Linked DNA regions of Homo sapiens: region 1 is linked to region 2. The links come from fine-mapping of genetic effects on gene expression. A gene starts in region 2. The other region holds a variant in brackets. All regions are shown on one strand. Distances are between the middles of the regions.

Evidence for each region. PIP is the estimated chance that this variant, and not a neighbour inherited with it, causes the effect. A credible set is the group of variants that fine-mapping cannot tell apart.
Region 1: its variant is the best candidate, but not a certain one, in a credible set for the expression of CENPB in whole blood (INTERVAL, PIP 0.60).

The regions. Positions count from the first base shown.
Region 1 is chr20:3,759,879-3,765,090 of GRCh38, forward strand. ADISSP (adipose secreted signaling protein) reads right to left here. Exons shown (of 6, transcript NM_001258429.2): 2 at 204-308. The coding sequence starts at 222. Among named protein-coding and RNA genes, the nearest start is that of ADISSP, 5.3 kb to the right of the region's middle. The variant T/C (reference allele first, on the strand shown) is at 2,095.
Region 2 is chr20:3,784,199-3,789,675 of GRCh38, forward strand. CENPB (centromere protein B) reads right to left here and starts at 2,542. Exons shown (of 1, transcript NM_001810.6): 1 at 1-2,542. The coding sequence starts at 2,285. The coding sequence ends at 486. It also overlaps a transcript of CDC25B not described here. RefSeq lists enhancers at 1,238-1,948, 1,914-2,053, 1,949-2,658 and a silencer at 2,494-2,843.

The DNA.
Region 1 (5,212 bases), 24 kb before region 2:
GTCCTGCTAGGGCTTGCGTGAGCCCCAGAACCTGGCACAAACACTGACATAGTCCCAATCACATTCGCACACCAGCACACACGCACTCACACATGCACACACACACACACAGGTGGTGCGGGCCCTACCTGCAGCAATGGCCCTCCTACCAGGGCCCACCGGAAGAGCTTGTGCAAGTCCTACCACGCCAGGAAGGCACTTACCCTTGTTGGCTGCAGCCATGGACGCCCTCCCTGCCACGCAGCTCCTGCCAGACACCGCCACTCACGCTCAGCAGCCTCCCATGCTCCAGGGACACCAGCGGGAGCCTGAAGGATAGGGAGTGGGGAGGGCAGGGGTCAGGGCCACTCATGGACCCATGGCTCAGGGACACCAGAGGAGCTCCCTTTAGGAAGGACTCAAACCCCTACCGCTCTCAGCAGCCCAAGTGGTGCCTGTACTCTCTAGCACGGGGGCTTCTGCCCACCCTCTACCGACTGCCCACATTCACCAAGAGCCCTCACCCCTTCCTGATACCCCAGTGACTCAGGGTCCTGCCAGCATGTGCTGAGCTGCAGCTTCTAGGTGCCAAAGCAACAGCATAGGACTCCTATCCCCAGCACCCCCAGAGACTGGCAGGAGGGGCAGCCTGGAAAGGAGGACTTTATTGGTATTTTCCAGGGACCAGTTCTGGTGCTGCTGACCCCAAAGGCTGGGCCTGGAGCTACCTTATTCAGGTCACACAAGCAATGCAGCTGGGTGCGGTCAGAGGCAACAGGGTGCTCGATGGTGGGCAAGAACAGGGGACCACATAAAGTAAGCGTGCCCTTAGAGCTTTCCCTCCTGGTGATCGGTCAGGGCCATATGCAAAACAGATGCCTGTGGAGGGGGTGTGCCCCCACCTGAACCCCATTCAGACCCTGCCCTGAGTCTCAGGCCTGCCTCCGCCTCAGCTCCCCAACGGCAGCCTCAGCACAGGGGCAGTGAGAGGCGCCCCAGGAAGCCTCCAATGGGCCGAGCTGGGACCATCTGAGCATCAAAAAGAATAATGAGTGCAACTGATGGAAACAGATGGAACACATAAAAGCAGTGCATTCACAGAGATTATTAGAAAAGAAGAGAGAAAGCAAAACAAACAAACCCAAGCCCTCAAAAGCCCTCATTTGTCACCACTGACGGTAGCAGTGCCCTCTTTACTCTGAAAGCTGAGGATTAAAGAGGAAGAATTCAGCCTGTCTCTTGGCCTTTCTTGTAACCAAATTGCCCTGGTGGTTGATGGAAAGCTCTTCTTTCGGAAAGAATTCTTGCTAATAAATAACAAAGAAATGACCAAATGCTAAGTCATTCTGCAACCCCTAAAGGAACAAATGCTGGAGGCAACAAGAACCAGTGGATGCTAAACCAGAGGGGAAGGTTGACAGGAAGCAGATACTCACAGGCGCCCAAGCGTCACTGACAGAGGACCTGGTATGGTTTTTGTTTTTTTTTTTTTTCTGAGACGGAGTTTCACTCTTGTCACCCAGGCTGGGATGCAATGGCACGATCTCGGCTAACTGCAACATCTGCCTCCTGGGTTCGAGCGACTCTCCCACCTCAGCATCCCGAGTAGCTGGGACTACAGGCGCCCGCCACCACGCCTAGCTAATTTTTGTATTTTTAGTAGAGACAGGGTTTCACCATGTTGGCCAGGCTGGTCTCGAACTCCTGACCTCAAGCAATCCGCTCACTTCGGCCTCCCAAAGTGTTGGGATTACAGGTGTGAGCCACCATGCCTGGCCGAGGACCTGGTGTTTAAGAGGAATGGCACAAGTTTGCAATGGAGGTATGTGACTTCTCCCAGTCACACACTGGTCTATCTCTCTACTCTCTGCAGGACAGCCTGTCACACTGATGCCTCCTGAAGTAAGGCAGCCCAAAGTCACAGCATCACTGACAAGGGATTCCTGCCAAAAAGGTTTAACCTGGAATCTAAACCAGCCTCTAACTTCAACTTCTCATTTGCTAAAAACACAGAGGAGAGGGGAACAAATTTAATGACTCCATGAGAAAGCAATGAGACGAGCCCAGAAGGCAGGATATTCTACAGGATGACTGACCTGTTTTTTGTTTTTGTTT[T/C]TGTTTTCAAATGTCAAGAAGAAAAAGAAAGCAGGCTGGGAACGGTGGCTCACGCCTGTAATCCCAGCACTTTCACGGATCACAAGGTAAGGAGTTCAAGACCAGCCTGGCCAACATAGTGAAACCCAGTCTCTACCAAAAGTACAAAGATTAGCCGGGTGTGGTGGCGGGCAGCTGTAGTCCCAGCTAGTTGGGAGGTTGAGGCAGGAGAATCACTTGAATCCGGAAGGCGGAGGTTGCAGTGAGCCAAGATCGCGCCACGGCACTTCAGCCTGGGTGACACAGCGAGACTCTGTCTCAAGAAAAAAAAAAAAGAAAGAAGAAAAATAAAACGAGGGAGATTATTCTAGATAGGAAAGCAGCAAACTACAGCTGATTACACAGCTGATGGTAAGGTTGCTGCCTGTTGTGTTTTTGTTTTTGTTTTTGAGACAGGGTCTCACTCTGTCCAGCCCAGGCTGGAGTCCAGCTCACTGCCACCGTAATCTCCCAGGCTCAAGCAATCCTCCCACCCCAGCCTGCCAAGTAGCTGAGACCACAGCCACGCACCACCATGCCCGGCTAATTTTTGTAGAGACAGAGTTGCCCAGGCTGGTCTCAAACTCCGGAGCTTAAGCGATCCACCCACCTCAGCCTCCCAAAGTGCTGGGATTACAGACGTGAGCCGCCAGGCCTGGCAAATAAATTTTTGCAAATAAAGTTTTACTAATAGAACACTACACTTCATTCACTTACATGTTGTCTGTTTTTGCACTAAAACAAAGTTACTTCCAAGTAGTTATGATAGAGACCATATGGCCTGCAAAGTCTAAACCATTTATTATTTGGCCCTTCAGAGCAAAAGTTTGCCAACCCTTGTTCTAGATCAACACACACTTAACAGACCAAAAAAGGATAATCTTCAGGACAACTGACCTGTTTTTTTCACCACATCAGCTGCAAGAAGAAAAATAAAGGAGAGGGTGTTTCGAACTACCTATCAAAGAAGACATTTTGGGGGGTGCCGGGCGCTGCGGCTCACACCTGTAATCCCAGCACTTTGGGAAGCCAAGGCGGGTAGATCACCTGAGGTCAGGAGTTTGGGACCAGCCTGGCCAACATGGCGAAACCCCATCTCTACTAAAAATACAAAAATCAGCTAGGCATGGTGGTGTGCACCTGTAATCCCAGCTACTCAGGAGGCTGAGGCAGGAGAATCGCTTGAACCTGGGAGGCGGAGGTTGCAGTGAGCCAAGATCCCGCCACTGCACTCCAGCCTGGGTGACAGAGCGAGACTCTGTCTCAAAAAAAAAAAAAAAAAAAAGGCCGGGTGAGGTGGCTCACGCCTGTAATCACAGCACTGTGGGAGGCTGAGGCGGGCGGATCACCTGAGGTCGGGAGTTCAAGACCAGCCTGGCCAACATGGAGAAACCCTGTCTCTACTAAAAAATACAAAATTAGCCAGGCGTGGTGGCGCATGCCTGTAATCCAGCTACTCGGGAGGCTGAGGCAGGAGAATCGCTTGAACCCAGGAGGCGGAGGTTGCGGTGAGCCGAGATTGCGCCACTGCACTCTAGCCTGGGCAAAAGGAGCAAAACTCCGTCTCAAAAAAAAAAAAAAAAAGACATTTGGGGGATCTGGAAAATGTAAATGGCCTGGATATGAGGTAACACTAAGAAATGAGTTGATCATGGAATTGTATTATGTAAAGAATTATGTCCTTATTTTGTCAGGGAAACATACTGAACAACTTAGAGATGAGTGACACTGGCTCATCAGTCCAGGGACAGAAGAGGAACTACAGGGTGGCCTCATAGTTTAGGGCTGGGCCTGTGGAGGGCATGATCTCAAGGTCCCTCTGGTGCCAAGCTGCTCTGGGAGCAGATGTGGCCTCACCTCGCTCCCCACTTCTCAATGTGGGCAAAGTCCACCCAGGCCCAAGCCCTGCCTCATGGGCAGGGTGTTCACAGTTTGGGTACCACCAGGAGCCCCCTTTGGCCAATGGACCAGGCCAGCAACCCCCTCTTGGAGGTGAGCTTCCAGGCCCCAGCCCAGGGTGCAGGAAGTGGAGCTACACCCATTCACCTCTGGCCAGGGCCACTGTGGGGTCAGTTGCCTCAGCCCTGGAAAGCTCAGCTTGTCCCCAGGGAACTTGGTCTTGGAGAGCAGCCTGCCGTAACCGCCCCCCGACTACAGCTGCCCCCAAAGCTGTGAACTCAGAGTATATGACAAATGGCCAAGCACAAGAGTGTGAGGCCCTCCTATCCTGCAGAGGCTGCTCCAGCCACACCTCTGCAGCCAGGAGGCAGTGACAGCCCAGTGTCCTCAAGGTCCCCCCATCTCCCAGGATGCTTCCTGAAGGCTCTGGTTAAACTGCACCAGTGGCTGGTGAGCAAAGGCTGCAGGCCCTTTTCACAAAACACTCTGAACTGGTCCATGCAGGGCACCCTCCCTGTCTTCCTCCCAACCTACTGCCTGACCGTCCCCCCGCCCTGCCTTTGCCCAGGTCATCCCTTCAGCCAGGAACAATCCCGTCCCTCCCAGCCACACCTTCGACAGGGTCTCAGCCCCAACATTTCTTTTTTAAGGATGCACACCCTGCAAATCCCAGGACAGGACTACAGCTCTTTTTGGAATCCCCTTTCTCATGTCTGGGATCATTTGATATCCCTCTTCCTCACCTTACAAGGGTAGTGACTGTGTTTTTGTCAAACCCTGTGTCCCCGGCACTCAGCGCAGCACCAGACAGGGAGGAGCTGTGTTTGGTTTATGTTTGTTGAATGAATGACCACATCACATTTGCTTGGAGGGCCTGGCCAAGGCCCGTACTTCAGCCCTAAATGATATGGTCAGGGCCAGTGACTGCACTGGGGGCTCTGAGGAAGCAGAACTCCCCACCCCACTCTTTTGCCTCACCCCTGCCCTGGGGGGCACTTCCCTCTCCCTGGCCCCCACCAAGTGGCCTCCCACTGGGACTCCTCAGGCCTTGCTGCAGTCAGCTGGTTACCTGTCCATGCCTGCTTTGAGAGGGACATGCCCCATGCCCACTGAGGGTAGGACCCACATCTCATGCAGTGCCAGTACTCAGTAAAGGGCAAACACTGAGGGCCTGTAACCCTCTGGATAGTGACAACATAGA
Region 2 (5,477 bases):
GCCTGGGGGGTGGGGGTGGGGGCTGCCAGCCTTGCAGGGGGCCTAGGCTGGACCTTCTTCTGGAGCCCTTCCCAGAATGGCTTTGGGGTCCCCCCACCAAAGACCTGACGTGGATGGCAGAGGGGAGAGGCACTCTCCGGCCGGGAACCTCCAGGGCCCATCCCTGGCTGCTGCTGTGGTTAGTCCACTGAGGGCACGGTGTGGTAGCACCGGACAGCTCCCCACCCGCCCCACCTGGTCCCCTGAGCCCAGGGCCAAATGGGGAGGAAAGAGGATTCTGAGAAAGAGGCAATAAGCAGGCAGTGAGGCTGACCTCAGCCCCGGGCCCGGCCGAGGTGACCGGGCCTGTTGCAGGACCAGGGGAAGCATTACTAAAGGATCTGGGGCTCTGCACTCTGGCTCCATGCACAGCGGGTGCCCAGAGAGTCCTCTGCCCTGGGGTGGTGCTGCCAATCTAGGTTGGGGGCACAGCTAGGTCCAGTGACTCAGCTTTGATGTCCAAGACCTCGAACTCCCGCCTGCCTGGCGTGGTTCTTCCTGGTCACATGAACCAGATCGTGTTCCAAGTGGAGGATGTGGCTCTGCACGCGGTCATCAATGGGGAAGGAGGTCAGGTACCTCTTGACCATGGCAAAGTAAGCCATGGCCTCCCCAAAGCTGGGTACAGGCACCTCATCACCATCCTCCTCATCATCATCGTCGTCTTCATCTTCATCATCCTCTTCCTCATCGTCCTCTTCCTCACTGTCTGAATCAGAGTCCTCCCCACCTTCCAGGAAATGCAGAGTAGGGCACTGGGCTTCCTCCTGGGCACCATAAGCCCCGAAGCTGCCACCGGCCTCCACTACTCCCTGGGCCCAGTCCTCAGCCTCCAAGCCCTCCGAGGAGCTCTCCTCATCTTCCTCCTCTTCTTCATCACTATCAACATCACCCTCCTCCTCCACCTCCTCTTCCTCCCCCAATTCCTCTCCTTCCCCCCCTTCCTCCTCCTCCTCCTCCCCTTCCTCCTCCTCTTCCTCTCCTTCACCCTCTTCCTCCTCCTCTTCTTCCTCCTCCTCCTCCTCTTCCTCTCCCTCACTCTTGAGGGAAGTGGTGATGGTGGCATTAGGGCCACCCCCAAAGCCAGCCTCACGAAAGCAGGCGGCTATGTCCGAAGGCTCCACTGCCTGCCAGGCGGCAGCCACAAAGTGCAGGGCCTCCGTGAGACCCAGCTGCAGGCCTGAGGGATCCTGGCCCTCTAGCGCGGCCATGGCCTTGAGCAGCATGGCCTGGCGGTAGTGGCCCTTCACCTGCTGGACCACTCCCCTCTCCAGCGGATGCACGGTGCCGGGAGGGAAGAAGGCCAGCTGCACATGCCGCAGGCCCGAGGTGTCCAAGGACTGGGCAGCCAAGCGGCCGGCCAACAGCAGGACCCGGCGAGACTCTGCAGCCATTCGGGTGTCCAAGGCCTTCAAGTACTTGGCCAGGGCCTGGGTGGTGACACCACCCTTGGAGTTGGCGGTGTAGTCGCAGGGCAGGCCGGCTTGGCCTGCGCGGGGCTTGGCCGACTTGCCGGCCACCAGCGGGGGCAGCTTCTCGCTGCCGTCGGCATTGGCGCATAGCAGGACGCTCAGGCGCTGGGTGGCTTGACGCGGCCGTCCGTCGCCTCCGCACAGCCCCGCGGCCTGGTCGGGCAGGAAGTCGTACCATAGACTGGTCTCGGTGGCGCTGAACACGTCCTGCGAGGCGTAGCCCTCGGCCACCGACGGCGGCTGCTCCTCCCGAGCGCGCCAACCAGTAGTGCTCCCGCCACTGCCCTCCGAGGGCACCGCGGCCGGACTGGCAGGCGCCGCCGGGGTGCGGGGGGCAGCGTTTCGCGCGCGGGCGCGGGCCACGCCGCTGCAGGACACCACGCCGTGGCGCCGGCGGAAGCGGTCCAGCCAGCCGTTGGAGGCGGTGAAGTCGTCCATGCCCAGCTCCTCGGCTATGCGCAGCGCCTTCTCCTTGAGGATGATGCCCTTGACCGGCAGGCCGGCGGCGCGGATCTGCTGGAACCAGGCGATGAGCAAGCCCTCGAGCTTGTCGTAGGGAGACAGCTTGTTGGTCTTGCGGCAGGTGGAGGCCACCCCGTACTTGCGCTCCGACGCCAGGATGGCGCGCTTGTTCTTCAGGATCGTGCTCAGCGTGGACGGCGGGATGTTGAAGCGCCGCGCGATCTCGCCCTTGCGCAGGTCCGGATTCTCCTCCACCTCCTGGATGATCCGTGACTTCTCCCGGAACGTCAGCTGTCGCCTCTTGGGGCCCATCCCGGCGCGCCCCCCGCCCCGGGGCCCGGCGCCGCCGCCGCCGCCCCGGGGCGGGGGGCCCGGGCCCGTGGCGGGGGGCACCTGGCGGCCTCTCCCGCGCGCCCCGCCCGAGACAAAGCGGCTCGCGGGCGCGGCGGCGGGGCGACGACCCGGCCGGGCCGGGGGCACCTCCGGGGACGCCGGCGGGCGCGTCGCCGGGCGGCGGGCGGCAGGCGACGGGCGCAGACGAGGGCGGGCGGCGCGGGCGCGGAAGGCAGGAAGTGCCGCGGCGCGGGGAGCTGGGAGCGCGGCGAGCGGGGCGGAGCGGGCGGAGCGGGATCTCGCGGGAAGCGCGGGGACGCCCGGCGCCTCCTCCCCGCCCTCCGCGCCCACCCCCTTCCCGCCGCCGGGACATACCGCGGGGGGGCGCTGCGGCCTGCTGGACCTGCCCGTGCTGCGGCCTCCGGCGACCCGGCAGCGACGCGGGCGGGGACGCGGTGCATCGCTACTGCGCCCGGCGGACAGCGACTTGCTGCTCAAAAAGAATAAGAACCAGGGTTTTTGTTTGTTTTTTTTTTTTTTAATTAAGGTAAAAATAACGCACTTTTTTTTTTGCGGAACCTGAAAAATTCAAGAAGTTGAAAAACGCTTTTCACGTCACCTGGAGAGATGCACAGGTAACATTTTGATACATTTCCTTCCAGTCTTTTCTCTAGATGCATGTCGTTTTCTTTTTAAAAATTTATTATATAAAACTGGCATCAGACTGTATAGACTGTATATCTGGCATCTCCTGCTGTTTTACCTGGCATCAAGTAGTGAGAATTTTGCCATATCGGTAAGTATCATTGCCAACACGCTTTTTAATGATTGTGTAGCATTCCAGCTATGAATGAACACTAGCGTATGTAACCTATTGTTACACACTTAAGTTATTTTTAAAATCAGCATTACAGTTGTAAATCTATTTGATGGTGCTAATGACATTTTTAAAGTTCTAGTAATCCCACAACCCATAGATAAACACTCATAACATCTTGGTGTGTCACTTTCTGGGCTTTTCCATGCATATAGCCATAAATGTATGTGTTTGCACTTACAGAAATAACATCATGTATATACATAAGTGTGAATCCCTGAAGCCTCCCTCTCCTGCAGCAAAACATTAAAATGCCAAGCTCTTAAAACAATGAATGTATAGCTGTGTTTTTAAAAATCTCTTAGGGCAGCACTAAGGGGAACTCCAGCATTGGCAGAGGGGAAGGCTGTGACCCAGGGGGACAGGCTGAGGACCTGGGGCTGGATGAAGCTGTGGGTGAGTGTAGACAAAGAAGAAAAGAGGACCAAGGACAGTGCCCTGGGTCCTCCAAGGTTAAGGGCTCAAGAAAGAGGCCAGGTGCAGTGGCTCACGTCTGTAATCCCAGCACTTTAGGAGGCCGAAGCAGGCGGGACCACTTGAGATCAGGAGTTCAAGACCAGCCTGGCCAATATAGTGAAACTCCGTCTCTACTAAAAATACAAAAAATTAGCCAAGTGTGGTGGCACTCACCTGTAGTCCCAGCTATTCGGGAGGCTGAGGCAGGAGAATCGCTTGAGCCTGGGAGGCAGAGGTTGCAGGGAGCCAAGATCATGCCACTGCACTCCAGCCTGGGCAAAAGAGTGAGACTCCATCTCAAAAAAAAAGAAAGAAAGAAAGAAAGAACCAAATAGAGACTCTTGAAGTGGAGGAGCCCCTGAAGCAGGAGAAAAACCAGGCTACTGTGGCATTCTGGAAGCCAAAGGAAGAAAGTGTAACTCACTGCTGTTTTAGTGCAAATTTCTGTTTTCGTATGTTTCTTGGCCATTTGAATCCTGTGAATTTTCTAGTCATATCCTTTGACCATGTGTTTGTCTTTTTCTTGACTTTTAGGAGCTCTTTACATGCTCTGAAGAAAAGATCTTGTTAAGTATGTTGCAAATGTTTTCTCCCTGTCTGCCACTTGTCTAAGTTAGTTTAGGGAATCTTTTGGATATGAGAAGTTTTTAATCTTCAACCTGTCAATTTTTTCCTTATTGCTTCGGGGTTTTGTGTCTTACTTAGAGAGGACTTCCCTATCCCTGAGATATAAAAGATATTCTTTTAATCTCAAGGTCCAAAAGAACACGTGGGAGACTTTTCCAGAGCACTGCTTGGCCCAAGAGGAGTGTGTGGTCACTGGGCAAAAATGAATCTAAGATTACCTGGATGAGAACTCCTTGCCATGCATCTTTTCTTTCTTTCCTCTCTTTCATCCTTTTCCTTGTTTCTTTCCTTCCTTCCTTCCCTTCTTTCTTTCTCTTTCTCTCTTTTCCTTCCTTTCCTTCTTTCTTTCCTTCCTTCCTTCCCTTCTTTCTTTCTCTTTCTCTCTTTTCCTTCCTTTCCTTCTTTCTTTCCTTCCTTCCTTTCTCTTCCTTTCCTTTCCTTTCCTGTGGCCCCTCCTTAGTGCCATACAAAGGGCATTGGCACAATTACTTCTAGGACAGAAAAGCCACGCCCATCATATGCTGATGTCATAGCCATTTCCAGATACCTCGTCTACCCTTTGCCTGTAGCAGTGCACGGGGCCCATTTCCATCCCCTCTCAAGTGACCATTTCCCCCAGCAATCCATCTGAGGCCCCGGGCTTCCCCACCTCTTTCTGTAAGTCCCAGCTTTCTGCTTTTAGGACTGTTTGGGAAATCCATAACTCACCTTCTCTTCTTTTGGTCCAGCCTGCCCAGAGCTGTCCTTCAGGCCCCTCAGCAAGCTTTCCATTCTCCTTTTGTTTATTTGAGACAGGGTCTAGCTCTGTCACCCAGGACGGAGTACAGTTGCACGATCATAGTTCATTGCAGCCTCAGTCTCCTCAGTAGCTAGGACTACAGGCATGAGGCACCATGCCTGGCTAATTTTTAATTTTTTTTTTTGAGACGGAGTCTCACTGTGTTGCCCAGGCTGGGAGTGCAGTGGCGTGATCTCAGCTCACTGCAACCTCCTCCTCCCTGGTTCAAGCAATTCTCCTGCTTCAGCCTCCTGAGTAGCTGGGATCACAGGTGTACACCACCATACCTGGCTTAGTTTTGTATTTTTAGTACAGACAGGGTTTCACCATGTTGGCCAGGCTAGTCTCAAACTCCTGACCTCAAGTGATCTGCCTACCTTGGCCTCCCAAAGTACTAGGATTGCAGCCGTGAGCCACCTCACCCGGCCAAAAA